3 separate regions of the Homo sapiens genome follow, and all the other regions are linked to region 2. The links come from fine-mapping of genetic effects on gene expression. A gene starts in region 2. Each other region holds a variant in brackets. All regions are shown on one strand. Distances are between the middles of the regions.

Region 1 (9,733 bases), 73 kb before region 2:
TGTTTCTGCCCAGCTCCCCACTAGAGCAGAGCCCCTGCATGGGCGGGACCCCTGTTGGTTCTGGTCTCTACTTTCCCGAGTCCAGAGCAGCGTTGGGCACAGCCGGGCGGGCTGGCAGAAGACCCGTGGGTGGCGAACAGCCCCCGTGGAGGCTCGGTTCACCCACCGCCAACAGTGCCCCGGAGGCTCAGTTCACCCACCGCCAACAGTGCCCCGCGGAGCTCGGTTCACCCACCGCCAACAGCGCCCCGCAGAACTCGGTTCACCCACCGCCAACAGCACCCCGCAGAACTCGGTTCACCCACCGCCAACAGCGCCCCGCAGAGCTCGGTTCACCCACCGCCAACAGCGCCCCGCAGAGCTCGGTTCACCCACCGCCAACAGCACCCCGCAGAACTCGGTTCACCCACCGCCAACAGTGCCCCGCAGAGCTCGGTTCACCCACCGCCAACAGCGCCCCGCAGAGCTCGGTTCACCCACCGCCAACAGCGCCCCGCAGAGCTCGGTTCACCCACCGCCAACAGCGCCCCGCAGAGCTCGGTTCACCCACCGCCAACAGCGCCCCGCAGAGCTCGGTTCACCCACCGCCAACAGCTCCTCGCAGAGCTCGGTTCACCCACCGCCAACAGCGCCTCGCAGAACTCGGTTCACCCACTGCACAACCCTGTTTCTCTCCTGGCCACCCCCTTTTCTGCCAGCTCCAGCCTCCACCCTGTTTGTCCACTCCACGCCCAACCTCGCTGTGCCCTTCAGCCTGGAACAGCCTCGCTGCCTCCCTGACGAGCTCCTATTCATCCTTCACAACCCGGCTCAGATGCCCCCACCTCAGGGAGCCTTTCCCAGAGGCCCAGCTCTGTGAGCCCCACGGTGACCCACACAGACCTCTATGTCCCCACAAAGGGGAACAGCGTGGACGCCAGGAACGCCCCCAAGTCATGGACTGAGAGGGGGGCCCAGGACTTTCGGCGACTCCCGCGTGGGGCTCTGCGTGTCTCCCGAGGCGCCCTGTGATCGGGGCCTTCACTTGCTGTGAAGGTGGGCCTCTCGCCCTTTCCCACCCCTGCTGCACACCTTGCTGCTGAGTGAACGCGTCCTCATGCGCTGGAGCCAGTGCTGCCCCTTGGGCCGTCAGCCCCACCCCTCAAAGCCTCCTGAAAAGGCCCCCGGTCAGAGCTGCGCTGGCGGAGTCTGGGCTGCCCTGTGTGACCGCTGCCCGCCCAGCAGTGCGGGGCGAGACCGGGCCTCCCTCAGCGTCCCCTCAGCACTTGGACAAGCTGCAGAACCCACAGGGAATGGAATGTCTTCCTCCCAGGGGCCAATATAAACAGCAGGGTGCCCGGCTTTCCTAATTTAGTTGTTGGTGGCTCTGGCCAGCCAGAGAGGTCGTTTGAAAATACAATGAGACTAGAGGCCATCACAGCGCAGGAGACACACCCGGGCCCACCATGATATGGACAGCAGCCCCTGTTGGCAGGTTCTTTGCTGGGGACTTTCTGGCCAGCAGGGCCTGGAGGTCACTGTTCTGCCCAGTCAGTGGCTGTGCTGGGCTCACCCGAGCCTGGCCCTGCGGCAGGGAACACCCTCAGCCGCAGTTTCCTCCTCTGAGAGAAGGGCAGGGCCGGTTTCACGTGGCAGCTGGGCCTGCAACTGTCTGGCTGTTCCAGGAGCCTGCTCAGAACACGGACCAGCCTCAGCCATGTCACACACATCCCTGTGCCAGCCTCCACATGTTTCTGACAGGGACACTTGGATGCCCTCGGCCAACAGCGCTTAGAAAACATGTCCTGGGCCTCCATCAACACCAGAGGCCTGCACTGCCATTTCCTGCCCCTCTGCGGATGAGCCTGGAGCCGCCCCCCCTTCCTCCCCTTGGCAGATTGGCCCCCACCCTCCCTCCCTCAGTCCCCAGCCTCCCTGCCCTCTGCGGCTCAGCCCCCGGCTTCCCTCCCCTCTACAGCTCAGTCCCGGCCTCCCCGATATGCTCTCAGGGCACTACAGGCCTGTCTGGGGGCACACATCCTGGCTGTGGCTCCATCTGTGCCTGTGGAACTGCTCTTGTCGCTGTGGTGCCAATGCTCCTCTTCCAGGGGCAGGGCCACGTGCCTCTGCACATCTCCCTGAGTGTGCTGAGCAGGGGTCTTCTGTTTTCTGTTTTTTTTTTTTTTTAGATGGAGTCTTTCTCTGTCACTCAGGCTGGAGTGCAATGGCGTGATCTCGGCTCACTGCAAGCTCCGCCTCCCGGGTTCAAGCCATTCTCCTGCCTCAGCCTCCCAAGTAGCTGGGATTACAGGGGCCCGCCACCACGCCCAGCTAATTTTTGTATTTTTTTAGAGATGAGGTTTCACCATGTTGGCTAGGCTGGTTTCGAACTCCTGACCTCATGATCCATGCCCCTCAGCCTCCCAAAGTGCTGGGATTACAGGCATGAGCCACCATGCCCAGCTCAGCCTCTTCTGTTTTTATGGCTGCTTGTTCTGTGCCCATTTTCCCCTGAAGCCATGAAGATCAGGGAGGGCGACACCTCCCTAGGTAGCCAGCGCCCAGCAACCCCCTGGGGCAGGTGAGGAGAGGGGAGGGGCCGTTTGGCAGCTGCGGTGGCAGAGTCCCTTCCACAGCTCATGGACAGAGACACTGGGGCTGCACCTTTGGGCTCCTGGGGTTCTTGCTGGTCAGCCTAGAGGGACGAGAGCCCTTCTGGAGACGCGGACCTGCCCGTGTCCGGGTGGGGCAGGGTGAGAAACGCCTGCCCGCGATGTGGTCCCCAAGCAGAGTGTGGACCTGGAAAGGGTTTAACCAAAGGCATTGAATAAGTGGCCTCCATGGCCCAGCTGCTCTACTGATGACAGGAAATGTTCTGCCCAGAGGCCAGCCAGGCGTGGGCTCAGTGGCCGGCTCCAGGCGACCAGGCAGGGTCCACCGAATTAGTGTTATAAAAAGAGAAGGGCTGGGTGCGGTGGCTCATGCCTGTAATCCCAGCACTTTGGGAGGCCGAGGCAGGCGGATCACGAGGTCAGGAGTTCGAGGCCAGTCTGGCCAACAGGGTGAAACCGCAACTCTACTAAAAACACAAAAATTAGCTGGGCACAGTGGTGTGTACCTGTAGTCCCAGCTACTCAGGAGGCTAAGGCAGGAGAATCACTTGAACCCAGGAAGCAGAGGTTGCAGTGAGCTGAGATCGTGCCACTTCACTCCAGCCTGGGTGACAGAGTGAGACTCCATCTCAAAAAAAAAAAAAAAAAAAAAGAGAGAGAGAGAGAAGCAAGCTCGCCTCCTTAGTAGTTTTTTTAAAATTGGTTTTAAATAACACAGATCCCTTTAATTTGAGGCTCCTAACATTTTACAAATAAATCTATACTTGATCTTAGCCCAAAGGCTGAGGAGAGATTACTAAAGAATCTAATATTAGATTTATGAAAAAGAAAATCTAACCCCAAGGGATGAGTATTTTCTAAAAATCCTGGAAGGCCAGGGGCCCGGCTGGGATCCCGTGGGGTGGCCGAGAGTGGCCCCCAGGCGGCGGCAGAGCTGATCTGGCCAATCCCCTCCCCAGCAGCTTCTGAGCATCATTGCAACGGTCACCGTCTATCTAGTAAAGCCGAGAACAAGTGTTTGCTAACTGCTCCCTGTTGATTTTTTGTAACTAGGTGGGGAATAGCTCAGACTGTACTAATGAATCAGCTGGAGAACCTGAGTATCTGTATTTCCTGGAAATAAATCTGGCTAATGGTCGATGTGGACTTTTGGGCTAGGATACCCCAAGGCCTTGACCTGAACATCTTTTTGTGACCTACATAAGATCTTATATGTGACTGACTTAGCTGGGACCCA[C/G]AAAGGGGCGTCTGGTAAACCGGCAGTGACCAACGAAGGGATGTCTAGTCGGCCGGCTGTGACTGATAATGGGGACACTGTCCATCCCAGGCTGACTGAGGCCATAAGCGCTGGATGCTCTCCCAGGCCTGAGACATGAGTAAGTCAGCAGAGGGTTCCAGGGATGCTTGCCTGCCGCCTAATTACAGCAACTGCCTAGGGTCCCTCAGTACCTGTGGGACATACAGGGTATCGGGTTAGTGAGCTTCTGTCACCAATTTGTGCTACAAACATATAGATTATAAAGGAAACCGATGAAGCAGTAGGCACAATTTCTAACACATAATAAAAACACAATATAGTATATTATATTGCAACAGGATGCTGTTATGTTGGATAATAGCGTTATTGAAGGTTAAATTCCGATTTTGAATAAGCAAACAGTGGTTACAGAAGAGCCTGTCTTTTCTGAGGAATTTCATCTGAAATATTTATGGTGAGAGGATATAGGGTCGGCAGGTTATTCTCAAATGTTTCAGAAACAATTGTGTGTGCGTGCTCATATGTGCGAGGGTGTGCGTGCGAATGCACGAGTGTGTGCAGTGAGAGATGAGGGAAAATATTAACGGCTGCTGATCCTGGGCAAAGGGGCGTGGGAGTTGTCGGAGCTAGTTTTTTTGAAACAAACTTAAAAGTGAACCATTAAGATAGGAGAGAGAGACAGCAAAGCTGCGTCATGACAGGTGTCATTCAAGGACCGTGACAGCACAGACGGCTGCTGGGAGAGGCGATGCTTTGCGGAACCCCGGATGCACCAGCACCCCACTGGCAGGGCCCCGGGGACTCTGTGCTCTCTGGTTTCCTGGTGTGTGGGACAAGACAAGGCTGTCCCCCCAATCTGCAGGCTGGTCATGGTCCCCGCCGGCACCACCAGGGCCCCAGGTCGTGCAGCCTGTCTTGCCCGAGGGAGAGCCAGAGTGGGGGGTCCTGGGCGATTGCCCTTCTCAGGGTACAAGGAGGATGGGGAAGGCAGGGAGATGCTGCCCACAGGGCCACACGATGGTTCAGACCCTGGGGACCGCCCCTGTGGCCATCAGACAGAACGTTCGCGATGTGTGTGGTGCCAGACACAGAGTGCCCCAGATCAGGCGCAGTCCCTGCCTTTGTCTGTCTGTCCCAGATCAGGCGCGGTCCCTGCCTTTGTCTGTCTGTCCCAGATCAGGCGCTATCCCTGCCTTTGTCTGTCTCAGCCCTTGTTTGCTGACCAGCAGCCGCTGCTCGGGGTGTGGCACACGAATCCCGAGACGGTCTCAGGCTGTTCTTTGAGACTCATGTGAATGCTTTTCCCGCAACAGGCTAAGTGAGCTGATAACTTATTTCTGTGTGTTAACTGGAAATGCGTTTACACACCAGGGATTTTAACCAGGGAAGCTTCTGTGTGTTAACTGGAAATGCGTTTACACACGAGGGATTTTTACCAGGGGAGCTGCAGTGCCTGCACTGAGATTCCAGTTATTTCCAACCTAATGGGACCTTTGGAATGCATTTCAATGATGGAGTTTTTAAAGCACAGATGTTTGGATTGAACATCAGTTTGGGTATTACCAATTTTATCAGCTGATATTTTATTAATTTTTATACCCACAGCCAAAACAGGTGGCATTGGCTTCTGGCAGCTTGGGCCTGAGGTTATGCAATCGCCAGGGTTTGCTGAGGGCTGTGGTGGTGGTGAGGTCTTCCAGAATTAGGGGAAGGGGAGAAGGCTTGAGTGTGGTTTTCGGATGCGTCGGGTTTAAAAGCTACTCTGTGCTCATGAACTGCAGCTCTGGGAGAAATACTCAGACCCCCTGAATCTTAGTTTCCTTGTCTACAAAATGGGGGTAGTAAAAAGGGCCCCGCTTCTAGTGGAGCATGGAATAGACAGGGGAAATAACATTCAAATGCCACCTGCTGCATGGCTGGCCATTAGGGAGCCTGCAGCAGCATGGTTCTCGGTCTGACGGGGGCTGGGCTTCGCCACTTCCTCGGCTGGGTGCTCTGAGCGGCTGCCCTGCCCACTCAAGTCACCGAGCCTCCCTGGATCCGCTTCCTCCAACGTGGGAAAGGAAGGACAGCTCTGCCATGGCTTTCAGATATGAAAACACTGGACACAATAATTTTAAATATAAATGCAAAATCTCTAATCAAAGAGTTTGGGAAAACGGATTCATCTAAATCAGCCTGAAGTCTAAACATGTGTGTGTTACTGACATGCTCATATTCCCACATGGCACATGTTCCTAGTGTGTGACTTCTGTGTGGTGTGTTCATGAGGACACACATGTCCTTTCTCAGCCACGATTGGAACTCTCCATCCCAAGTCCTGGCTTCAGAGCTCACATCCGTGGGCCTGAGAGAAAGGTGTCTGCCAATAGCTTCAGGCTGAGAATGGGCATATTCTGGACCCCACCTTCCTCTGAAGCACCCTTGTCTGCCATCTGGGAGTGAGAGGCACTCATCCTCCTGCCTGCCCCTTCCTGGTGCCTGATGTCTTGCAAGAGATGCGGATCCACAGGGATGTGCAACACTGATGCTCCCAGAGAAGAACCCCTGGGGAGCTACACCTTGCTGGGCCTAAGAGGTTGTATAATGTGCCCTCTTTTCCTTCCCTCCCTCCCTCCCTCCCTTCCTCCCTCCCTTCCTTCCTTTCTTCCCCTTCCCCTCCCCTTCCCTTCCTTCTTCTCCTTCCTTCACTCCCTCCTTCCTTCCTTCTTCCCTCCCTCCCTTTCTTTTTTCTTTCTTTCTTTTTTTTTTCAGGGTCTTACTGTGTTACCCAGTCTGGAGTACAGTGATGTGATCTCACCTCACGGCAACCTCAACCTCTCAGGCTCTGGCAATCCTCCCACCTCAGTCTCCCAAGGAGCTGGGACTACAGGCGCCAACACCATACCCAGCTAATTTTTGTATTTTTTTTTTTTTTTTTGTAGAGATGGGGTTTTGCCATGTTGCCCAGGCTGGTCTCAAACTCCTAAGCTCAAGCGATCCTCCCGCCTCAGCCTCCCAAAGTGCTGGGATTACAAGCCTGAGCCACCTGGCCACACCTTATTTCATAAGAATGTCTTGGAGAAAGAAAAATAAAAACTCCATCACTTAAACTATGGACACCATAAAATATAAGATGCACCACAATTTCAGAAAAATTAAATACAAAAATGAATCCTAGAATGAAATACAGCATCGCTGCGCTGTAGGGAGAGACTAAGTCCTTTTCAGAAGAGCTGGGGAGCAACACTGGAAGTCGCCATAAGAGCAGGTGTTTGCAAATGCCACTCACGCGATGGAAACCACTGAGAGCCACATCCATGGGGTATTTGAATTATGGCACAGGAGTACAATGGAATACTAGGCAGCAGTTAAAAAGGCGCAGATTGGTCTATGTATGGTGATACAGATAATATTTTAAAACCTAGTTTAATGAAAACAGCCAAAAGCAAACCATGACATATACCATGCTTCCTGTTTGGGGAAAGAAATAGTGTGTGTGGCATAGCACACACATGCAGGTGTGTCTCACATACAGGTGGACAGCCAGGGTGTGTGTGTGGAGGAGGCTCCTGGGAGGAGAGCATGGCCTTGTTATCTCACATAAGCAGGTGTGTCTCACACAGGCACACAGCTCGGGGGGTGTGTGAGGAGGCTCCTGGAAGGAGGCTTAGGCGACCGTGACCGTGTTATCTGGGTGGTTGGAAGCAGCTTTCCCCACACGCCGCCTTTAACAGCATTTGGATTCGCGAAGCTGTGCACACGTCATTTTTATCGCAAAAATGAAACCTGCCGGTGCCGTTTTAAACAGCAGAGTTGGCTCAGTGTCCCCTCAGTGCTTTCTTTGGCTTTTTCTTTTCAACTTTTGGGTGTCTCTGTAACAGGAAAGTGAAGCAAGGCACTGCCAGCTTTTGTTTACGATGCTTGTGGATTTTGTGTTTGTGTGTTTTAATCTATAATCAGTTTGTAAATAGACTCACTTTCTGATTCTCACGGAGGGGTTTGATTTGCGGATGGAGACCGAGTCCACCCTGTTTGAATGCAGCCGCGCCCTGCTCATGCGAGCTGGCCTTCTCTTCCATACAGCAGGGTGGAGAGGGAAGCCCACTTTCCGGTAAGCGGGCAAAACAGGTACTACGACCGTGTTACTTATGCTAGCAACAGTTCCGACTTACCTTAATTGGGTTTCTTTTCCTGAAAGGTAATTCTCAGTTAATTTCCCCACACCCACGGGTGCTGGGACCACACTCCATGGACGTGTGTGACGTGAGGCCCTTCGCCCCCGTGTGCCTGTCTCTCTGGTTCTTCTGACTTAAAGCACCAGTAGCAGCACAGTTAGTCCAGTTATTCGGAAGCTCAGCACGGAGCCACATTGCTGCAGCATAGAAGGCCACGGATTCCTCCATCAGCATGGACTACACTTCCCACAAAACGAACGGGGCATCTCTATGGAAAAAGCAAAGCGTGTCCCTATCCCTGGGACACCTCTACCCCTGGGACACACCTAGCCCCAGGACCCGCCCACCCCCGGGACCCGCTCACCCCGGGACACCACTACCCCTGGGACATGCCCACCCCTGGGACAACCCTACCCCCCCCGACACGCCCTGGGACACGCCCACCCCCCAGGACCGCCAACCCCTGGGACATGCCTACCCCTGGGACACCCCTACCCCCCGCCAACATGCCTACCCTGGGACATCCCTACCCCCAGGACATGCCTATCCCCAGGACATCCCTACCCCCAGGACATGCCTATCCCCAGGACAGACCCACCCCCGGGACACGCACATCCCCAGGACAGACCCACCCCCAGGACACGCCTACCCCTGGGACACCCCTACCCCCGGGACACGCCCACCCCCAGGACACCTCTACCCCCGGGACACGCCCACCCCAGGGACACGCCCACCCCGGGACACCTCTACCCCCGGGACACGCCCACTCCCGGGACACGCCCACCCCGGGACACGCCCACCCCCGGGACACGCCCACTCCCGGGACACCTCTACCCCTGGGACACGCCCACCCCCGGGACTTGCCCACCCCCAGAACACGTCTACCCCTGGGGACACCCCCATCCCTGGGACACGCCCATCCCCGGGACATGCCTACCCCCAGGACACCTCTACCCCTGGGACACGCCTGCTCCTTGCACTGAATGAATGCAGGGGTCATTTCCATCAAGGGGAGGCGGCCGGGGAGTGAGGCGCCTGGAAGTGGTTGGCGGGGCTGGCCCGGGAAGCCTGGACCCAATGCACCTGGGAGCTGGGAGTCCGTGGCCCCCACCTGTGAAGTCCACCAGCCTCTCTTGCCAGTCCACTCACACAGGAATCCTAAGTGGGAGCATAAAGACATCACCACTTTCCCCTTTCAAATCATCCCATAGAAGAAGACGCCCGTGGGGGTAGGGCTTGTATTTTGGATGCCCACAGAGATTCCAACCAACCAGGCTTTCTGCCCCAGTGCCTTCTCTCCCTGAGGCTGGGGCTTCCTCTGGGATTCCAACTCTGCCCAGAGGCGAGCCCTTTAATGAAATCACAACAAAAAGAGAGGCCCTAGCCAAGCGGCCAAGCACAGCGGTAAACATCAGTCAACTGCTGTTTTATTCACACCAGATGCTGCATGGAAAAATCACGTCCAAATTTATTTTAAACAAGAGCAAGTGGTCTCTTTTCCAAGACTCTCTGAGAGAGAACCTCATCACAGGGACAGCGCTTCCTCGTCAGCGAGCCCGATGGGGCAGGCGCGGAAGGGAAAGGCCTTCTCTGCATTTGGACTTGGCCCACTAAGGCAGACCACAGAGAGACGCCGGAGCTGGCAGGAGGCCATTTATGTTCTGGTTTTCTCCGTGAGTTGTTTCAAAAAGGGATTGATCTTAAAATCTAGTGTGATTAAAAAGGTG
Region 2 (9,733 bases):
AAACCTTACCAGCAGCTCAGAAGTGGTACAGATACAGACCCTTCTGGCCTAAAACCTGAGGAAACGTCTTCTGCGGCTCCTCACAAAGTTCAATGTCCCCTCACACATACCAATTCCTCACCAAAATGCCAACCACGTACAGCAGAGCCAGCTTCCAGAAGTTTTTTTTTTTTTGAGACAGGCAATCAAAAAGCATGCTGATGCCAAAATACCAGAGGACGATTCTGCAGAGGCATTAAGATAACGCTGTCCAGATACATACTCTCCCGTGTGCATCTGGGATCCTGGGTCCTGAGGCCTTTCAGGAGTCCCACAGAACTACCTTCCCGAGCGTCCTAAGCCGCCACCAGCCTTGCTCACTCTCATTCTCACAGAGTGCACAGCAGAGGCCTCCGTGGGCTGCAAGGCCTGTGATATCACAGGAATGAACGCGAGATTCGAGAGCCTATCTTTTATCAAGCCAGACATTAAGATATTTGCAAAAATGTAATGGGTTTTTATTGCTAATTAACTATAGAAATATTTTAATACTATTTTAATTTCTAATATGGTCAATATTGATGACTATTACCCACACAAACAAGAACTCTCATTTAAGAATGACTGGGGTTCCAATCATTCTTAAAAACATATAGGAAATGTGCTACATATATACCATGGCATACTACATAGCCATAAAAAGGACCGAGATTGTGTCCTTTGCAGCAACATGGATGGAGCTGGAGGCCATTTTCCTAAGTGAACTGGCGCAGGAACAGAAAACCAAATGCCACATGTTCTCACTTGTAAGTGGGAGCTGAACACTGAGCAGGCGTGGACACAAAAAAGGACCAACAGACACCAGGGCCTGCTTGAGGGTGGCAGGAGGGAGAGGATCCCAAAACTACCCACCGGCTACTGTGCTTAGTACCTGGTTGACGACATAATCTGTACACCAACTCCCATGACACACAGTTGACCTTTATAACAAACCTGCACATGTACCCCTGAACCTAAAAGTTAGAAAACAAAAAACAAACCCAAAAACCACATCGAACTCCTGAGACTAAACACTTAAGAGAATGGCTAATTCAGGTGATGCTAGGCAATTAACATTTCGGCTACTCAAACAATGAGTGTTGAGCATTTGGGAGTCTTGGATCCCTTTTGGAATCTGAGGAGTCACAGGTCCGCCCTCCAGGAAAACATATATGGCCCTCACACGTGCAGGCAGCTTTGCATAAAATTTCAGGGGTTTCACAGATGGCTTAAGCCCATCTGCAAAGTCCTCACAAGGGGAAGGTAGAACTCAGATTAAGAACGGATGAAGAAGATCAGAAGCCTTCATTCAGCCAACTTTGTCTCTTAATGTTCCAGACAGCAGCCATCTCTGCCATCTCAGGCCTGTGGGTCTGTTGCCAAAGCAGACAGCCGTAGGCTGTGTTCCAATAAAACTCAATTTACAAAAACAGACAGCTAGCCTGTGGGCTGTAGTTTGCCGACCCCGATCTAGATTCTAGAGGAATAAATGGAATACATATTCACTACATTATTTCCTGAAACTGAGCTTTTGAAAAGAACTAAACAAAAAATTCAAGGTTGTATTCTCTGGTAAGATCAAATTTAGCTAAATTAAGGCAGATCCCATAGTCTCTGACCGTAAGCTGACAAAAGATACAGCTAGAGTCTTTTTATGAAGTTGACAGCCTTCCCAAGGGAGGGTGAGCAAAGCCAAGAATTACCTCAAAAACCTTAGGATAAAGACAGAAGTGCAGCCCCCAAAATGGTCCACCACCAGGAACAGCCATGACGCCCTTATTATGGAAGTGGTCATCGTTGCTAGATTTAAAAATCTGCCATGGTTATACAACAACATTTACTATATCCATATAACGGAACATAATTCGGCCATAAAAAGGAATGAAGTATTGATACATGCCACATGGATGAACTTTTGACACTGAGTAAAAGAAACCAGGCACAAGAAGCCACACAGTGTATGATTCCATCCACACAGCGCACGACTCCAGCTGCACAGTGTACGACTCCAGCCACAGTGCACGAGTCCAGCCACACGGTGCACGACTCCAGCCGCACAGTGCATGAGTCCAGCCGCACAGTGTGCGATTCCAGCCACACAGTGTACGATTTCACTTATATGAAATATCCAGAATGGGCACATCTATATAGAGAGAAAGGTGAGTGGTAGCCAGGGGCTGGGGCAAGGGAGGAGTTGGGAGTGACTGCTAATGGGTACAGTTATCGTTCGGGGTGACAAAAATGTTTTAGGACTAGATAGAGGTAGTGGTTCCACAAATTTGTGAACGTACTAAACACCACTGAATTGTACACTTTAAAATAGTTAATTTTATGTTATATGAATTTCACCTAAAAAAATTCAACATTGTACCCTCAGACCCTCCAAGACCAATCAGCAGACTAATATACTCTTCGGCGACTGAATTATTTAACCAGCATTATACAACTGATGACTCCACACCAGGAATGTGCAAATCTGGAAGATATGATGGTGTCTGATCTTGAGCTCCTGCCGATAACCCCTTGAAGCCTCCCCTAATGTGTGACAACACCATAACACCAGCAGCCTAATTTCTTGGAACTCTAGAAGAACAGATGCAGGAGCACATGGATCCAGGCCACTCAAAATGGCTTTGAATCACTACTGTTAGCTAGAGTGGACAGAAGTCGGTATCCAGAAACACGAAGAGCCCCCTGCAATCTACTCAAATTGTCTGATGTCACAAGATACTCCAGTAAACCCTGAACCACACGGTGGTGCCAAGGCACTGGTTCTGAAGGAGCAAGAGAAGCTTTGGGGTCTAGGCTTAGTCCATTAACAGGCCTCTGGTCAGTCAACAAAGCTGCAATCATTTGATGTCACCCCTTACAGGTTTCTCCATAAAATAACAGTGATTAAAGCAATGATCGATAGCTAAGTCTAAAGACTAGGTGCTTCATGTCCAAAAGTGACTGAGAGACCCAAGTTACCTCTTGTGAAAAAGGGAACTGGCATAAAGCTTCTTAGGAAACAAAAAGGCTCGTCAACTAAAAAACTACAGGGGAGAGAAGGAAGCCGAGTCCCTCTAGACAGGACTAAACCCAGATCAAATTTACAAAGGCCCAGACATTGGCAGTAAGCTTTGAGTGCACCAAGAGAGGACTGAACCCAGGTCAAATTAACAAAGGCCCAGACGTTGGCAAGAAGCTTCGAGTGCACCCAGACAGGACTGAACCCAGGTCAATCTAATCAAGGTGGATACACTGGAACTAGGGCCGCCCTTCAAGCTCACAACCTTCACTGAGGCTTACCACATCATGCAAATTAAATTATTAAGGCCAGCTTTTAAAGTGTGTACATGGGGTGGGGGGAAGGCATTTTCTAGGTTTCATTATTTCTGTTAAAATGTACACAATTCTTGAAATAAAAATCTGGACAATCCAGTGGAAACAGCAAATAAAATCTCTAAACTATAAAAAAGTCTCAAACACTTTAATTGTGACCTTGTGAAATACGACTCATATAATCTGGCACCAAGGATACCCATATGTAAAATGGAAAGAAATTACTCTTAAAATGTCCTTAGGGTCAACTTACCCGGGGCTGGCGGGCCAATCATGTTGATCGAATAAACTACGTAAGTTTATGGATCACTTTCACTCTGTTTCGGTATACAGCACGCTAGAGGGAGGGGGAGTTAAATTCATCCCTGCTCTTGGATCTCCAACCTCGGCAGCAGTGGAACGCTCCTCTCCAGCATCCTGAACATGTTCAAGTTTTCCCCAAACTAAGTTCCTGTCCACTCTGCCCCTGTCCTCCTAAAAGCTGGAGCAAGCTATCTCTACCTGCCCAGGTGTGCATCCTAACTCAGGCTACCTGGCTCCAGCCCGGCCTCCGCAGTGACCCCTAAAGGTCACAAAAGCTCGGCTGCTGCGGTCAGTGGGATCTTTTCAGCTGCTCTTTTGTTCAGCACTGCTGATGGCTCCCTCCTCCTTTAAACTCCATCCTCTTGGTTTCGACACATTCTAGTGTCCTGGTTTCTCCTACCAGCCCCCTCTCAGTCTCCTTTGTGGCTCTTCTCCCATCCTGAAGCTTGTCCTCACCCTCCACTCCCCTCTACACGTTACCGTGTCCCTTCTCCGGTGGCTCTCTGTGCCTTAGCCAGGACAATCTTTCAGCTCCTATACGTCATCATCGCCTACCACTAAGGGTCTGTGCATTCTGTTTCTTCTGCCTGGAGCCGCACACGGCTGGCTGCCCCGGAACCTCACTTTTTCTCTGGCTAATTTCCAGAGAAATTCTCCACAGTTCAACTCACACCCTCAGCATCTGACACCACTCCCACAGCCGCATCCTACAAGTTCCTGGAACCCGTGCCTTAGCCTTTGTCCCAACTGTGGTCAAACAATTGTGCATCTGGTGCCTGTCTCCCCTGCTGGGGCATCAACTCCCTCAACGCCAAGATCATGCCTGGCCCAGCACCAGTCACACCCAGCAGCACCTTGCTGGCCTCTGAACCGATGTGGACTGAATAAATCCCATCCATCACCATTTCCACCACATTTCAAAGTAACTGATGTGCACCTCCAGCAGCCTCCCTCCTGCGCTGCGGAACTCTACCAGCTCCACAGATGCACACCTACAGCCACGCTACAGCTCCCGGCTAGAGCCCGCGCTAGGGCCCCGCTGTGCCTCTCCCTCCCCTCCCGGCAGCAGGGCCTCCCCCGCGAATCTGAGCTTCTCGCGGATTCCTTCCTTGCGCTGTTTTGGTCAACAGCCTCAGCATCTGCACAGACGCCCGCAGGAGCAGCCGAGCCCTCGCCCGCCTCGACTGCCCGTTTCGAAGCCGCCCTGGGAAGCCCCCGGCCTGGGTTCCCGCTCGGCCCCGGCCCCTGCCCCAAGGCCCCTACAGTTCCTCCCGGCCCCCGCCCTCCGCTCACTCCCGGTCGTCCCTCGCGGCTCCGGGTCAAACCCGCGCTCCCCGCGGTCCCGCGCCTCCGACGCCACCGCTCCGGCTCGCGGGCCCGCGGCGCGTTCCTCCCTCGGATCCACGCGGAACGCCCCGCGCAGCTCGCTGGGCTCGGCCTCCCACATCCAGCGCGCCGCCTGCGCCGACCTTGGGGCCCGACCCCGACCCCGACCCCGACGGGCAGAGGCGACGCCGGGCCACCTACCATCTCCCCCGCGCCGCCCGCTTCTGGCCGGCCCCGGCCTTCTGCGCAGGCGCGGCGGCGGCTCCGCCCTCGTCCTCGGACGGCCGCGGCCCTCGGCTCCGGGGCAGTGCCGGGAGCCGGCCGCGGGGACTCCCACTCCCGGCATGCTCAGCGCCGCCCGGGGGCCCACGGGAGCTCGCGCCCCACAGCCCCTGCGCGTCCAGCCCTCTGCGAGGGCCTTGGCTCGCCCCTGCGGGGTCCAACGCCAGCCTGCGGCTGCCAGGCCCCACGCCGGCCAGGAAGTGCTCGCCGCCCGCGGCCGACGGGACCCGCCCACGCCCCGCCTCTTAAAGGGGGCAGTGACTGCGGCTGGGCGGGAGTCCGGGTCGGCTTGGCTGAGCGGGGGCGGTGCTGGGCAGGGCGGCGGCCGCTCCCTCCCGGACTCCCGGCCTCCCGGCCTCCCTGGTCCCGCCTGGGAAGGGATGCAAGGAAGCCCTCCGGCGCTGCGCTCCGAGGCGGGAGACAGCGTCCCCCTCCGCCCCTCGGGTCCTGGCGCCTCAGAGCCCGGCCCAGGCCGCGGAACGGTGATGCTCGGGCCGGACGGGCGGGCGCGGATCCCTGCGTCCCGGTGAGCACCAGGCCCGTCCATCCGGGGCTCTTTCCCGGGGTCCCCTTCCTTCCCTCCCTCCCTGGGGCTCCCCTCCCCTCTCTCCCTCCCCGGGGCTCACCTTCCCTTCTTCCCTTCCCAAGGGTCCCCTTCCTTCCTTCCCTCCCTCCCTGGGGCTCCCCTCTCTCCCTCCCCGGGGCTCCCATTCCCTTCTTCCCTTCCCAGGGGTCCCCTTCCTTCCTTCCCTCCCTCCCTGGGGCTCCCCTCCTCTCTCTCCCTCCCTGGGGCTCACCTCCCCTCTCTCTCTCCTCGGGGCTCCCCTTTTCTTGCAGGTATTGTCTCCCGGGGTCGGGTGGTCTGTGTGGCCTGGGGTCCCGCTCCTCCAGGCCTTGCCTAGGCGCTCTTCGCTGAGGCCCACGTTCTAACCTGGAATGGAACCTGCGTTCCCACCCTGGCCGCCCGGGTGGACTCGGGGCCTCCAGGGCCGGCCGCAGAGATGCAGCCCTGTCCCTGGCCCCCCTCCTGTGACTCCTAACGGCTCCTCACGGTGTCCATGACCCAGGGTGTGGACGCCTGCGCGGGGGAAGCAAGACCGCTGCGTATCGGGTCCCTATTCACTGCCTGTTTTTCTGATTATTCTGTCTTCCAAATTTATCTTATTTACCGGCTTTTTCAAAAGGAGTGTCTTAATGATTGGATTACTTGTGAAATATTTGTAGTTTTTTTCTCCTACAGGCTTGACTTAAATATTCTAAAGCTTTTTTGTGGTTGTTGAGACAGAGTTTTGCTGTCGCCCAGGCTGGAGTGCAGTGGCTGGTCAAGGCTCAAGCGATTCTCCCGCCTCAGCCTCCCCAGGAGCTGGGGCCACAGGGAGCATCACGCCCGGCTAATTATTTCATTTTTAATAGAGACAGGGTCTTGCTGTGTTGCCCAGGATGATCTCCAACTCCTGACCTCAAGCAGTTCGCCCACCTCAGCCTCCCAGAGCGCTGGGAATACAGATAATTGTGTCGTAATACAGCAGTGGCATTAACCACCGCACCTGGTCTTAGGTAGAATTTGAAAACCTTTTTATTTTGAGATGGTTGTAGATCACATGAAGTTGTAAGGAGTAATACAGAGAAATCCTACAGAGTGCCTTTGCCCTGTTTTCTCCAATGGTAGCACCTTGCAAAACCATAGTATATGTGGGGAATTTTCTTTGATCAAATCCCCTGACCTGTTGAGATTGCACCAACTATACATGCACTAGTGAGTGTGAATCTACACCTGTGTGTCTTCTCAATAAAATTGAGATTTTTTTTCACTCAGCCTTGAGATACATCCGCATTGTTATGTGTATCAATTGCTCAAGATGCAGAAATTCTAAGAATTCATTATTTAAAAAGTAATCCCAGCACTTTGGGAGGCTGAGGTGGGTGGATCACCTGAGGTCAGGAGTTTGAGACCAGCCTGGCCAACATGGCAAAACACCGTCTCTACTAAAAATACAAAAATTAGCTGGGTGTGGTGGCGAGCGCCTGTAATTCCAGCTACTTGGGAGGCTGAGGCAGGAGAATTGCTTGAACCCGGGAGGCAAAGGTTGCAGTGAGCTGAGATCACAACACTGCACTCCAGCCTGGGTGACAAGAGCAAAACTCCGTCTCAAACAGCAACAACAACAAAAAAAACACATTACAGGAATCCAAAGTGTCTTTTTAATAACTAGAACAGCTAAAGATGTTTACTAATTTGCTCAAAAAACATGCTACAATTTAGTAGTCAGTAGGATTTTGGAGGCAAGTTTGAAGATAAAATGAAATGAGTTTGAATAAAGGTGATTTGTATTTTAAGGGTCCATAAATAATTTCAGTTTCATGTTATGAGTATGTTTCAGTGGGAAATTTTAGTATAACTACAACTAAAATCCTCAAAGGTTTCTCATAAAAATTATAGCTCCCTTAGAGGGACAACTAATTTTAGGAACCTGATTGAGGAAGGAACCAGAAATGAACATAGAGGTGTCATTCACACATGAGCTGTGTTGAAACTTATTTTTCTGAAGCATAAAATCCATCAAAGAATCACTTTTTGGGATCTTTTGGGGAAACTGGGAAGTGTAAGCAAAGCATCTCAGATTTCTGTCTTGGTTCTGGAAAATACTAAAAGTTCACTTGTGAAGTAGCTGTTGATTTATTTAGCTCCGTTGGACCAACCGAGAGAAGCTTAGCAGTTGAGTGAGTCATTAAAATAACAGCTCAGCTATATGGCTAGGCATGACTAAGTGATTGCCTCATTGTTTGTTTTTAAGGTGGTAAATGTGTACTTAAAGTTGTACACGTGTACTTAAAGTTGTATTGAAACTAACATAAAATTGAGTGATTGGAACAGCACATTATCATTTATCCTATCTTGTTAGGAAGTTACCTGTTCTAGGTAAGTGAATTCTCTGTGGAGTGTGCTTCTCCTTTTGGGAGTCAGTCTCCAAGAATGTTTTGAATTGAACACTTTCTAACCAGAATATAGTCTTTTCTTGGTGACTTTTGCTTGTAATTCTGATCAGTACTGTTGTCTAACACAGTACTGTCTTCAGGACCTGCTGGGGTGCAGACAGTCGCTGAGCCTTCACCGAGTCATCTGGCCTCCAGGCTTTTTTAGTTCTCCTGTTTGTTTTGCATAAGGTTTGTCTCTTTCTGTGGCTGCCATTTCATGGTTTGGGCAGAATGCTGCCTCCAGAAATGCTGCCCTTACTTTTGCTGCATCTAACCTACTTTGCCTGGGAAACTCGATTAAACCAATTAGAATTTGGGTTAGCAGTGAAATGAAAGTATAGATATATAGATACATCTTTTAGTAACCAGGTTTCCAGGTCGGGGAATCTTTGTAATATGTGATGGTTGAGTAGGAATTCCTGAGTAACAGTCCATTGGATGCTGCTATGAAGAATGGTTAGGTTAATATTTTGTTGTTGTTTACTTTAAACTGTAAATCTGCGTAAGTGGTAGGTGTTGGTTTTGTTGCCTTTTTTGGGATAGCTACTTGTGACTGGTGATCTCCTAGTGGCCAAATTCCACGGACTCTACGTTTATTACTCCTTCCTTCCACGGTCTCGGTTTCCCACCTCTCAGCTCGTTCTGCCTTAGTGACCTTTGCTGGCCGCTGTCTCATCCTGCTTTCTGAACAGTGCTCCTGTCTGGGTGCCTTGCCCTACCCCTGCTCATCACCACCTGGACACCACGGCTACAGCCGCACTGAAACCGTCCTCATTCCCCCAGCAGTAATGTTCAGAAAGCAGGTTCCTGTCTGTGCTGTGCCTTGCCAGGATAAATTAATATACATTGTTTTAGGTATTCCTAAAGAAAGGAAGAGAAGGAGACTGAATTGGGATGATAACAAAAAGTTCTAGAGATCTAGGTATTGTGGCATATATATATATATATTTTTAATTCTTGACATCTTGGTAGCACTTGACTGTAGACTGACTTTGGAAATGTGGCAACATTTCAAATGATTTTAAGAAGCCTGCAGAGCTAACAGTAGCTCAGAAGATTTCGTTTCTGGAGTGACGTTGAGCATGGTGTCCCCAAGCAACCCAGTGACCTGTGAGGGGAAGTTGATGGTATTTTCTGGGCTTCGATAACATGGACTTTCTGTTTTTGTTTTTTTTTTGAGACAGAGTTTTGCTGTTGTTGCCCAAGCTGGAGTACAATGGCGTGATCTGGGCTCCCTGCAACGTCCGCCTCCCGGGTTCTAGCGATTAGTAGCTGGGATTACAGGCGTGCGCCACCAGGCCCATATTTTTAGTAGAAACAGGGTTTCACCATGTTAACCAGGCTGGTCTTGAACTCCTGACCTCAGGTGATCTGCCTGCCTTGGTCTCCCAAAGTGCTTGGGATTACAGGCATAAGCCACCATGCCCAACCAACATGGACTCTCTTAAATAGACTTGGTTAATGTCTTTTGCACATGGTGGAGTTGGTAGAGATACGAGGCTGC
Region 3 (9,733 bases), 74 kb after region 2:
TTGCAGTGAGTCGAGACTGCGGCAGTGCACTCCAGCCTGGGAGACAGAGCGAGACTCCATCTCAAAAAGAAAAAAAAAAGGGTGGGGTGAAGGGGGGCATCACTGTTTCAAATTTAAAGGTTGATAAAGGGGGTGATTTATCACTGAAGTCTCTCCGCTGCTTCAGTGGTCTGGGGTGAGACGTGCCTACGAGCCAATGTGTCCATAAGCCGATGTGTCCCAGCAGGTGTCACCTGCACCCCGTGGGAAAAGAGCACATTTCTGGGGGGCTTTCTCTCTAAGCCCATGCTCGCTTCAGGTGTCAGTGTTGGCTTGCGCCCCCTGAGCACACGCAGGTCTGGACGGGGTCGCGGGTCTGGACAGGGTCGTGGGTCTGGATGGGGTCGCAGGTCTGGATGGGGTCACGGGTCTGGACGGGGTCGCAGGTCTGGACGGGGTCGCAGGTCTGGACGGGGTCGCACAGCTTTGGACCGGGTCGAGGGTCTGGACGGGGTCGCGGGTCTGGACGGGGTCACGGGTCTGGACGGGGTCGCAGGTCTGGACGGGGTCGCAGGTCTGGACGGGGTCGCACAGCTTTGGACCGGGTCGAGGGTCTGGATGGGGTCACGGGTCTGGACGGGGTCGCAGGTCTGGACGGGGTCGCAGGTCTGGATGGGGTCGCACAGCTTTGGACCGGGTCGCGGGTCTGGACGGGGTCGCGGGTCTGGACGGGGTTGCACAGGTCTGGATGGGGTCGCACAGGTCTGGACGGGGTCGCGAAGGTCTGGACAGGGTCGTGGGTCTGGACAGGGTCGCAGGTCTGGACGGGGTTGCGCAGGTTTTGAGATGGGCATTTCCTCCCCCAGCATCTCAGGGTGTTCTTGGCAGCCCCTACCCCAGGACAAACCTAGTTTCCTGTGTTCCTGGTGTTTGTTTTACAAAAGCCTAAGCAGCAGGAACATTTGCAGACTCTGCTGAGAGGGCGAAAGGGGAGGCAGGCATGCAATGTAGGCAGAAGCTGGGAGGGGCTGGACAAAGCTTCTCAGACTTCAGAGTTGGGACCGGAGGGCAAGAGAAGGGCCCAGCTGCCAGGACGTGGTAGCTTCACAGAGGGCAGGGCCTCAGGACACTGGCCACTGCTGCCACATCCCGGGCACAGGGAGACAGCCCAAGGACAGACAGACGGGTCCCACGGGCCTGTGGGTGGGTGGCATACAGAAAGTGAGCCAGCTGCAGAAGCCAGAGAGCACTTCCTACCCAGCCGAACGGCGGCCAAGACCCCGCTGCTCACCAAGACGTGGCCTTGTGAGTCGGTCCTGGACGCCGGGGCTGACTAGCATGACGGTTTGCAAGGGAGGAAATGGTGGCCCTGGAGGTCCAGTTGTTCACTCAAGGCTGCTCAACAGGACAGTGACATTCACAGAGAAAGCCCTGTAATAGGGCTGCCCACCTTTCACACACTGAAAGCTGACTTGAGAGGCTGTTTTCTTCACTGTATTGATGGACAGCTTTGAGTTGGTGTTGGTCATGGCCATCTTCCCTCAACACTTTAATTGAAATGTGAAGTTACAGAATAAGAGGTCAAAGGCACCCTGGGGACTGCATGGGCACCTCATCCATGGGTAAGGCTCTGGGCCGGGGTTCACATCCTGAAAACCTGCGTTCAGGAGTCTGTTTCTCACTCGAGGGGACTTTGGTGTCTCCAGAGATGTTCACTGCGCTTTGTTCTCAGAAGGGCTGCTCTGAATCTCACGAAGGGAGTGAAGGGTCAAGGCATGTGAATGGCAGTGAGAGCCCCCTACGTGGACAGGGCCTTCTGTCCACAGAGTGGCAGAGAAGAGTTTGTTCCTGGAAGAGCTCCACCCCTGGAGCTGCAAGGCTGGGGCCCAGGCGCGCTACAGCTACAAGCTTCATCACAGCTCCCTCTGCTTAGGCTGTCACTGGCTCACGGTCACACAACCAGGAAGGAGTGTCAAGCACCCACCACGTAGCGCCCACTCCACGTCCCTCCTATCCTGCCCTCGGTTTCAGAGGCTCAGTTGCAGACCACAGAATCCCCACCAGCAGGTGGAAGCAGATTGAGTTTTACTCAGAGATAAAGACCGATGGTCTCCCCATCTGGGCTGAGAGCCGGTGGACGTCACTGCCAGGGATGATGCGGCAGGAGAGGTGCCCAAGCACGAGCAACACTGGCACTGGGCCCCAGGAGCTTCTCTACAGTCCACACAATGTCTAAAGGCTTTCCCGAAGGCCCAGGCCACTCCCGTGTGGCTGCACCTCTCGTTGGCCAATTCTGCCCCCCAGCTTCATGCAGATAAAGCAGTGTGTGGAACCCAGGTCGCAGGTGAAGGCCCAGCTGTGAGGGCCTCTGGCAAAGGGTGATCATACTGCCTGGGCTTTGTGGTGCAGAGGGGATCTGAGGACAGGCAGACTGGGTTTGGATTGATTCGATATGCCAGCCTGCCTGGAACTGTTAGAAGAAAAACTTTGGACTTCGTTCTACATTCAAAACAAGGTGGATGAGGGGGAAACATCCAGGGCCCCAGTGTGGTGTTATGCAGAATCCATGTGGTGCGGTTCTACTCTGTTTGTGGAGAGAGCATGTGTGTGTTTGCAGAGGGCTTGTAGGGCTACTCTGCCTCCCTGCCCGAGCTGACCCCAGGACAAGTAATCTGGGGAGTGGTCCCAGAGACACTGCCAGTGAGGCTGGAGAGGGCCCCGGTGTGGCATAGGTTCCCCGGGTGTGGGGGCTGAGCCTCTTCCCCTCCCGGCAGTCCTGGTGCCAGGCTCCACAAGGCAAAGATGCTCCGCGTGCCTGTGGGTGGTCCCGCAATGAGCTCTGTGGCTGCCAGATGCACCTCCCCTCCAAGGCCTCTGCTGCCTCCCAGTGGCTCACTTTGTTTGTGGCACTGCAAACCGAATCCTGTTAAAAAGCATAGTTAGAAGGCAGCACCATGCTCCTCACTCTTGAAAGCCGGCGGGTGGACCAAGTCTCTACCTTGAAATCCCAGTCACCGTGCTCAAAATTAACAAGTTGTCCAGTGACCTGATTCTGGGATTGCCACGCTGAGAGGTCGCGTTGTCTTCAAGCAAATACAAGAAAGCAAGTCTCAAGGAAAGCAGGTTTTGTTTCTAGAACATCAGAGGGACCCAAGCATGTACCACATTAGGCTTTTTAAACCCACATTCTACCCAGGGCTAGGTCAGCGAAGAAGGGCTTTCAATACTGAGGAAGCTCTCGGCTCCTCATTAGTCACTGAGATGACATTGTAACCATGGGAAGTCTGGGCCTTACCTCACTGCGTCCATCCCTGCCCAGTTACACCCCACTCCCACACTGCAAGCGGGGGCTTTAAACTGTAAATCTGTCAATGTCATTCCCTGAGATGACATAGGGGCCAACCTTGGGTCGTGTGAGCAACAAGATGCACAATGGCCGTGCTGATTGCAAACTGTAGAATAAAATAAATGCATGCAAGCTCACACTGCTGTCGTCACTGACCATGTCAACACGCAAACGGGGAAGAAGGACCCACTGCTCTTCCCTGCAGGAGAACCTCGATGGATAAATGCCAGAGGAAAGGGGGAAACAGAAAATCACCACGAGGCAAAGTCCACGGAACTGATTGCCGCTGACAAGACCCCCATGGATGCCAAAATCAGAGAAGTTCCAGGAGAATCAGGATTTGGTCTCCCAGTGTCTCCAGGACGATTATCC[C/A]CTACAGAGGAAGGACGGCAATTTGACCAGGAGACTCGGCAGACACCACCTGGACCTGTAGTTGGACACATCAGCTCAGGAGCCACTGAGAGACAGCCTTACCTCCACAGGATGCTTGCCAAATGGGCTTGACTTCATACAGTCCTGAGAACACGAGACAGCAAAATCCATGCCCAGGCCCCAGGACAAGGATGGTTAGGGCTGACACAGGGTCTGGCTCTGTCACCCAGGCTGGAGTGCAGTGGTACAATCATGACTCACTGCAGCCTCCAGCTCCTGGGCTCAAGCGATCCTCCCCACTCAAGTAGCTGGGACCACAGGCGCACACCACCACACCCGGGTAATTTGATTTTATTTTTTGGAGAGATGAGACCTCATTGTGTTGCCCAGGCTGGTCTTGAACTCCTGGGCTCAAGTGATCCTCCTGCCTTGCTCTCCCAAAATTGTGGGATTACAGGCATGGGCCACGGTGTCACACTGGGTGCTGGGTTTAATATCTGTGTCGTGGCCATGCTGGACACGGATATGAGGGAAGCCAGGGAGGATTATGTGGGAACTCTGGGTACTATTTCTGCAACTTTTTAGTAAGTCTCAAATTCATTCAAAACAAAAAGTTAAAAACAACAACAACAAAGAGCCATCCACTTGCCCCAAACTCTTCCTCAGCTCCCACTCACTCTGAAGATAAATTTCAGAGTCCTCCATCAAACTTAAAGAACTTCTCGCCAATTCCCTCCGGTCCACACGACCCCAGCTGTCTCTCTCCACTCATCCCTGAGATCTTAAATCCACGACACTTTCTTGGATCAACTTTCCCGACAACAACATTGCGAGGTCTCTCTCTGTGGCATTTTTGTAGCTCCTAACACCTCCTCCGCAGCACTTACCACGTCTGCAGTTAACTCAGAGCCTGAGAGATCCACCCCTCAGATCATCCGCAAAGACCCACAAGTGCTTCCCTCGGCCCCACAGACCCTTTCCACAGACCGAGAGACACTTCCCACAGACCCCCCCAACATATCCACAGACCCGAAGCCGTCCCCTCAGACCCACAGACCCTTCCCACAGACTCGGAGACCTTCCCCTCAGACCCATAACCTCCCCACCCCACAGACCTTCCCCACAGACCCACGGACTATCCCTACCTTCAGACCCTCCCCTCAGACCCGCAGACCCTCCCCAACCCACAGCCACTTCCCATAGATCCACAGACCCTCCCCTCCCTTCAAACCCTCCTCTTCCTTCAGATGCTCCCCTCAAACTATCCTCAGGCCCTCCCTTCATACCCACAGACCTTTCTGTCAGACCCTCCTCTCAGACCCACGGACCCTCCCGTCAGACCTGCAGCCGCTCCCCTCGAGCCTCAGACCATCCCCTCAGATGAAGGGACCCTCCCAACAGACCCCCAGATACACCCCTCAGACCCTCCCCTCGGGCCCTCAGCCCCTCTTCTCCAAACCCCACACCCTCCACTCAAACCCACAGACCCGCCCCTCAGACCCATGGACCCTCCTTTCAGACCCACACACCTTCCCATCAGATCCTCACACCCTCAGACCCTCCCCTCGGACGCTCAGACCCTCTTCTCAGGCCCTCGTAACCTCTCCTCAGACCCATAGACTCTCTGCTCAGAGCCTTGGACCCTCTTCTTAGACCCTCAAACCCCACACTCAGACCCTGAGACCCTCCTCTCAGAACACAGACCCGCCCCTCAGACCCTCCCCTTCCTCTCAGACCCGCAGACTCTCTCCCCTCAGACCCACAGATGCTCCGCTCAGACCCACAGATGCTCCGCTCAGACCCTCAGACACTCCCCTCAGACCCACAGACCCTCCCCTCAGACCCACAGACCGTCCCCTCAGACACACAGACCCTCCTCTCAGAACACAGACCCGCCCCTCAGACCCTCCCCTTCCTCTCAGACCCGCAGACTCTCTCCCCTCAGACCCACAGATGCTCCGCTCAGACCCTCAGACCCTCCTCACAGACCCTCCGACCCTCCCCTCTGACATTCCCCTCAGACCTATAGACCCTCCTCTCCAACCCTCGTACCCTCAGACCCTCGGCTCAGACCCACAGATCCTCTTCTACACCCTCAGAGCCTCCGCTCACACCCTCAGACTCTCCCTTCAGACCCTCAATCTTCCTCTCAGACCCAACGACCCTCCTCCCAGACCCTCAGACCGCCCCCCTCAGACCCTCAGACCCTGAGACCCTTCCCTCAGACCCTCCCAAGACACCCGCAGACCCTCCCCTCAGATGCTCCCCTCAGACCCTTGGACGCTCCTCTCAGACCCACAGACCGTCCCCTCAGACACACAGAGCCTCCCCTCAGACGCAGAGACCCTCCTCTCAGACCCCCCAACCCTTCCCTCAGACCCTCAGACCTTCTTCTCAGACCCTCAGTCTGTCCTCTCAGACCCTCCCCTCAGACCCTCAGACCGTCCCCTCACACTTTCCCCTCAGACCCTCATACTCAGGTGGGCAGAGCTTCTGCCAGTGTAGATCATGGTGCCGTCTTCCCGCGCGGCACTGCTGTCGTCCTGGTCTTCCGAGGGCGTCTTTCTGTCCGTGGCTTTCCGGCAGGGCCCTCACCTCTTCCGGTGCGCACTGCTCAGCCCTTCGCGGCTCAGGCCTGACTGAAAGCACCCGTGGTCCCTGAGCCTCGTGTGCGCTTGTCAGCAGAGCCTGTTTTGTCCTCAGTCTGTCTGGTCTGAGCTGGCGTGGACATTTGCTCTCTGGGTGCATCACAGAGACCTGCAGGGCCCTGGCGCTCAGAAGCCAGCGTGAGGTTCTAGGTCTGGGGCCGGGGCGGGCGACAGCGGGGCTCGGAGCCACCGCCACAGCCCTGCCCGACGTAGGTAATTCACCCCTTTAATAACCAGAAGACGGAAAGAAGGAAAAGGTGCAGGCCAGAGGGAACCCGAATTCCCTGTTGAGTGCGACTTTCTTTCTTTTTGCGGTCCGGTTTCTGGTCAGTGTCCTGAGGACATTATGCCATGCAGGGCGGTTCCGAATTGCCTGGGCCCAGCCTGGTGTTGCCACGGTCCCCACCCCACTCTGCAGCCCTGTCTGATCCTGACCCAGTTTTCTTGCCCACCCCTGAGGCTCAAACACTGTGATTTGAGCTCAGACAAGGTGAGTCTCAGGTTTTGAGTGAGAATGTTTCTTTTAAACGTTGGTTTGATAATTTTCTATAAAAGGCTGAACCCTGAATTGTTTCTTTTTCAGCCTGTACCAAAACGTCAGGTGGTCTCCTCCGGCCGTGCCTATCACCACCAGCCTGTGTCTCCCTGTGAAATATGGTCTGGTTCCATCATGGATTTATTTTCCCGCCTCCCAGTAGGACAGATCTCAGCTCTTTAGGCCGACAACCCCTGACAGCAACTCAGCCACCTCCTGCCCTCACCCTTGGAGCCCTGTCTACTGATGGCTCACTTGGAGCCTGGCTTGGGGTGACCTCTGTGCCAGGGTGTGCGGTCATTTCCCTGGATTCTTGTTAGAGTCCTCATCTGCCCAAGGAGATGATGACCCTGAGCTACTAAGAACAGGCTTCCTTCATGTCAGGACACAGAGACAAACATGCGCACCACGTAAGGGAAGGGAAGATGGTAAAGAGAAATTGGTGAACAAATGCCGCGGCCAGGCAGGTGGCGCGAATGAGCTGAGTGTGGCATCAGAGGGGTGGGAACTTGGTGCCGCTCAGCCTTGGCAGGCAGCTGCTAAGTAGGAATGCACAAACACTGGCCAGATCATCTGATTTTTAAAAAGCCAGAAATATGGACTTCTGTATAAAATTTTGTGATTTTTAAATGTTGGCAATGTTCTTTGCTTTTTTTCTTTTTAATCCTGGGTAGGGTAAACCACCAGTTTCCGACTTCTGTACTAAAACATGTTCTCTAGATTTTTTTTTTTTTTTTTTTTTTGAGACGGAGTCTTGCTCTGTCGCCCAGGCTGGAGTGCAGTGGTGCGATCGCGGCTCACTGCAAGCTCCGCCTCCTGGGTTGACGCCATTCTCCTGCCTCAGCCTCTGGAGTAGCTGGGACTACAGGCGCCCGCCAAGACGCCCGGCTAATTTTTTGTATTTTTAGTAGTGACGGGGTTTCACCGTGTTAGCCAGGATGGTCTCGATCTCCTGACCTCGTGATCCGCCTGCCTCAGCCTCCCAAAGTGCTGGGATTACAGGCGTGAGCCACTGTGCCTGGCCCCATGTTCTCTAGATTTTTAAAACTAAGATTTTGTTTTATATATTTATATGGAAATACAGAAAAATGCCAGAAAAAGTGCCTATAATTTTCACTGTTAACAAAATTATATAAAGTAAGAAGTAAAAGTAGCTGTAAGATCCCCTTCACTTCTCCGGTTTGCTGACGTGTGGTAGAGGAGAGGCCATACAGGTGAAGGTCTGTATGCGGCGGTCAGGTGAGCCCTGGAAGTGGGCAGGATTTGGAAGGACTGACAATGAGGAGAGCTTGCCCTCAGGTAGGAAGACAGGGTTGATCCTTATCTTTGTTTCAGTGGCAGCTGCACTCTTGCATGCATGGTCCAGTTCTATCTCCTGTCTTATATGTCCATGGAACATAACAAATCCTAGTGTAACCACAGCCCTACCCAAGAACATGATGAGACACAACTCCCTAAGTTTTCCCCCCGAAAGTAACCAAAGAACTACTCTGACTTTGACACTTGTTATCCTTTCTAGCTTGTCTCTTTTCTTATATACATACATATATACATAAATATATATATATATATATATATATATTATGCATACATGAGTTTTGTCTTTTTGTTTTTAAACTTTATAAGAAGGATATGATATATGTGGGCGTTAGGGACATTTTACTTCATTCATTCTCACTTGTTACCCTATTGTGGGAATACTCCTCACTTTGCTTATCTGGTGTCCTACAGTTGAACATTTGAGCTGCCTTCTGCTTTTTTGTTAGCGTAAACATTGATGCTGAGCATGATCCCTGGGACAGGTCCTGAATGTGGAATTGTTGGGTAGCAGGGTGTGCAAATATTCAACCTAATAGGATTGTGCCAAATTATTTTCAAAAGTGGCTGTATCAACTCACACTCCTACTGGCCATGTGTAAGAGATGTAATTGGCCCACAGCCTTCCCAGTATTTGCTATTGTCAGACTTCTTAAAGTTTGCCTGTCATATGGGCATAAAATGATTTCTGATTGTGGTCTTGATCTGTAGCTCCCTGATAATTAATGAGACCAAGAATCTTTTCATGTGTATACATATTGGCCCATCGACAACACTGACTCTTCTGAGCCGTGAACAGCATATACCTTTATGTATTTAGTTCTTCTGTCTTTCAGTTGTATTTTATAGTATTGTGTTGTACGCATTTTTCATTAGAGTTGTTCCTTGTATTTCATATTTTGTTCTATTGTTAAATTGGATATTGGTTTGATTTCTTTTGGATTGGTTTCTTACTGTTTATTGCTGTATTGTATATGTATAGAAAGGTGCAAATATCACAAGTTTACAGCTTGATGAATTTTCATTGGACTCACCTATTTAACCTAGACCCAGATGAATAAAACACAGCTTCCCCAGCACCCTAAGACCCCCTGTGTTCTCTTCCATTTATTTCCACTCCTACTCCCACCTTCCAACCAGCAGCCTCTGTCCCAACTAGATTCATTTTGCTTGTTTGGTACTTTATAATCATGGATCCACACAAAATGTAGTCTTTTGTGTCTTGCTACTCTTGCTGAAAACAGTATTTATGAGGAACTTTACCCCATTACTGCCTGTAGTTGTGGACAGTTCATTCCATTGTGTGATTCTATCGGAATTTGTCCTGTTGTCAGGGAGCACTGTGACAGGTCCCAGTTTGGAACAATTACACACAGTGCTGCCTATAGACACTCTAGAAGATGTCTTTTGATAGACAAATGCATTGATTTCTCTTGGATATATTCCTGGGAGTGGAATTGCTGGACCATGGAGTAGTTGTATGTTTGACTTCGTTAGGGAATGTAAGTCAGTTTTTCAAAAGAATTTTAACATTTA

Evidence for each region. PIP is the estimated chance that this variant, and not a neighbour inherited with it, causes the effect.
Region 1: its variant is fine-mapped to the expression of DCUN1D2 in whole blood (TOPMed, PIP 0.98).
Region 3: its variant is fine-mapped to the expression of DCUN1D2 in whole blood (TOPMed, PIP above 0.99).

Annotation. Positions count from the first base shown.
Region 1 is chr13:113,412,529-113,422,261 of GRCh38, forward strand. The region is part of intron 7 of ADPRHL1 (ADP-ribosylhydrolase like 1); the gene reads right to left. Among named protein-coding and RNA genes, the nearest start is that of ADPRHL1, 36 kb to the right of the region's middle. RefSeq lists enhancers at 4,321-5,321, 5,322-6,322, 8,515-9,227. The variant C/G (reference allele first, on the strand shown) is at 3,829.
Region 2 is chr13:113,485,495-113,495,227 of GRCh38, forward strand. DCUN1D2 (defective in cullin neddylation 1 domain containing 2) reads right to left here and starts at 5,217. Exons shown (of 7, transcript NM_001014283.2): 1 at 5,173-5,217. The coding sequence starts at 5,175. It overlaps SLC9D1 (solute carrier family 9 member D1), which reads left to right and starts at 5,527. Exons shown (of 13, transcript NM_017905.6): 1 at 5,527-5,779. RefSeq lists an enhancer at 4,388-4,687 and a silencer at 4,918-5,837.
Region 3 is chr13:113,559,752-113,569,484 of GRCh38, forward strand. No RefSeq gene overlaps it. Among named protein-coding and RNA genes, the nearest start is that of TFDP1, 20 kb to the right of the region's middle. The variant C/A (reference allele first, on the strand shown) is at 3,698.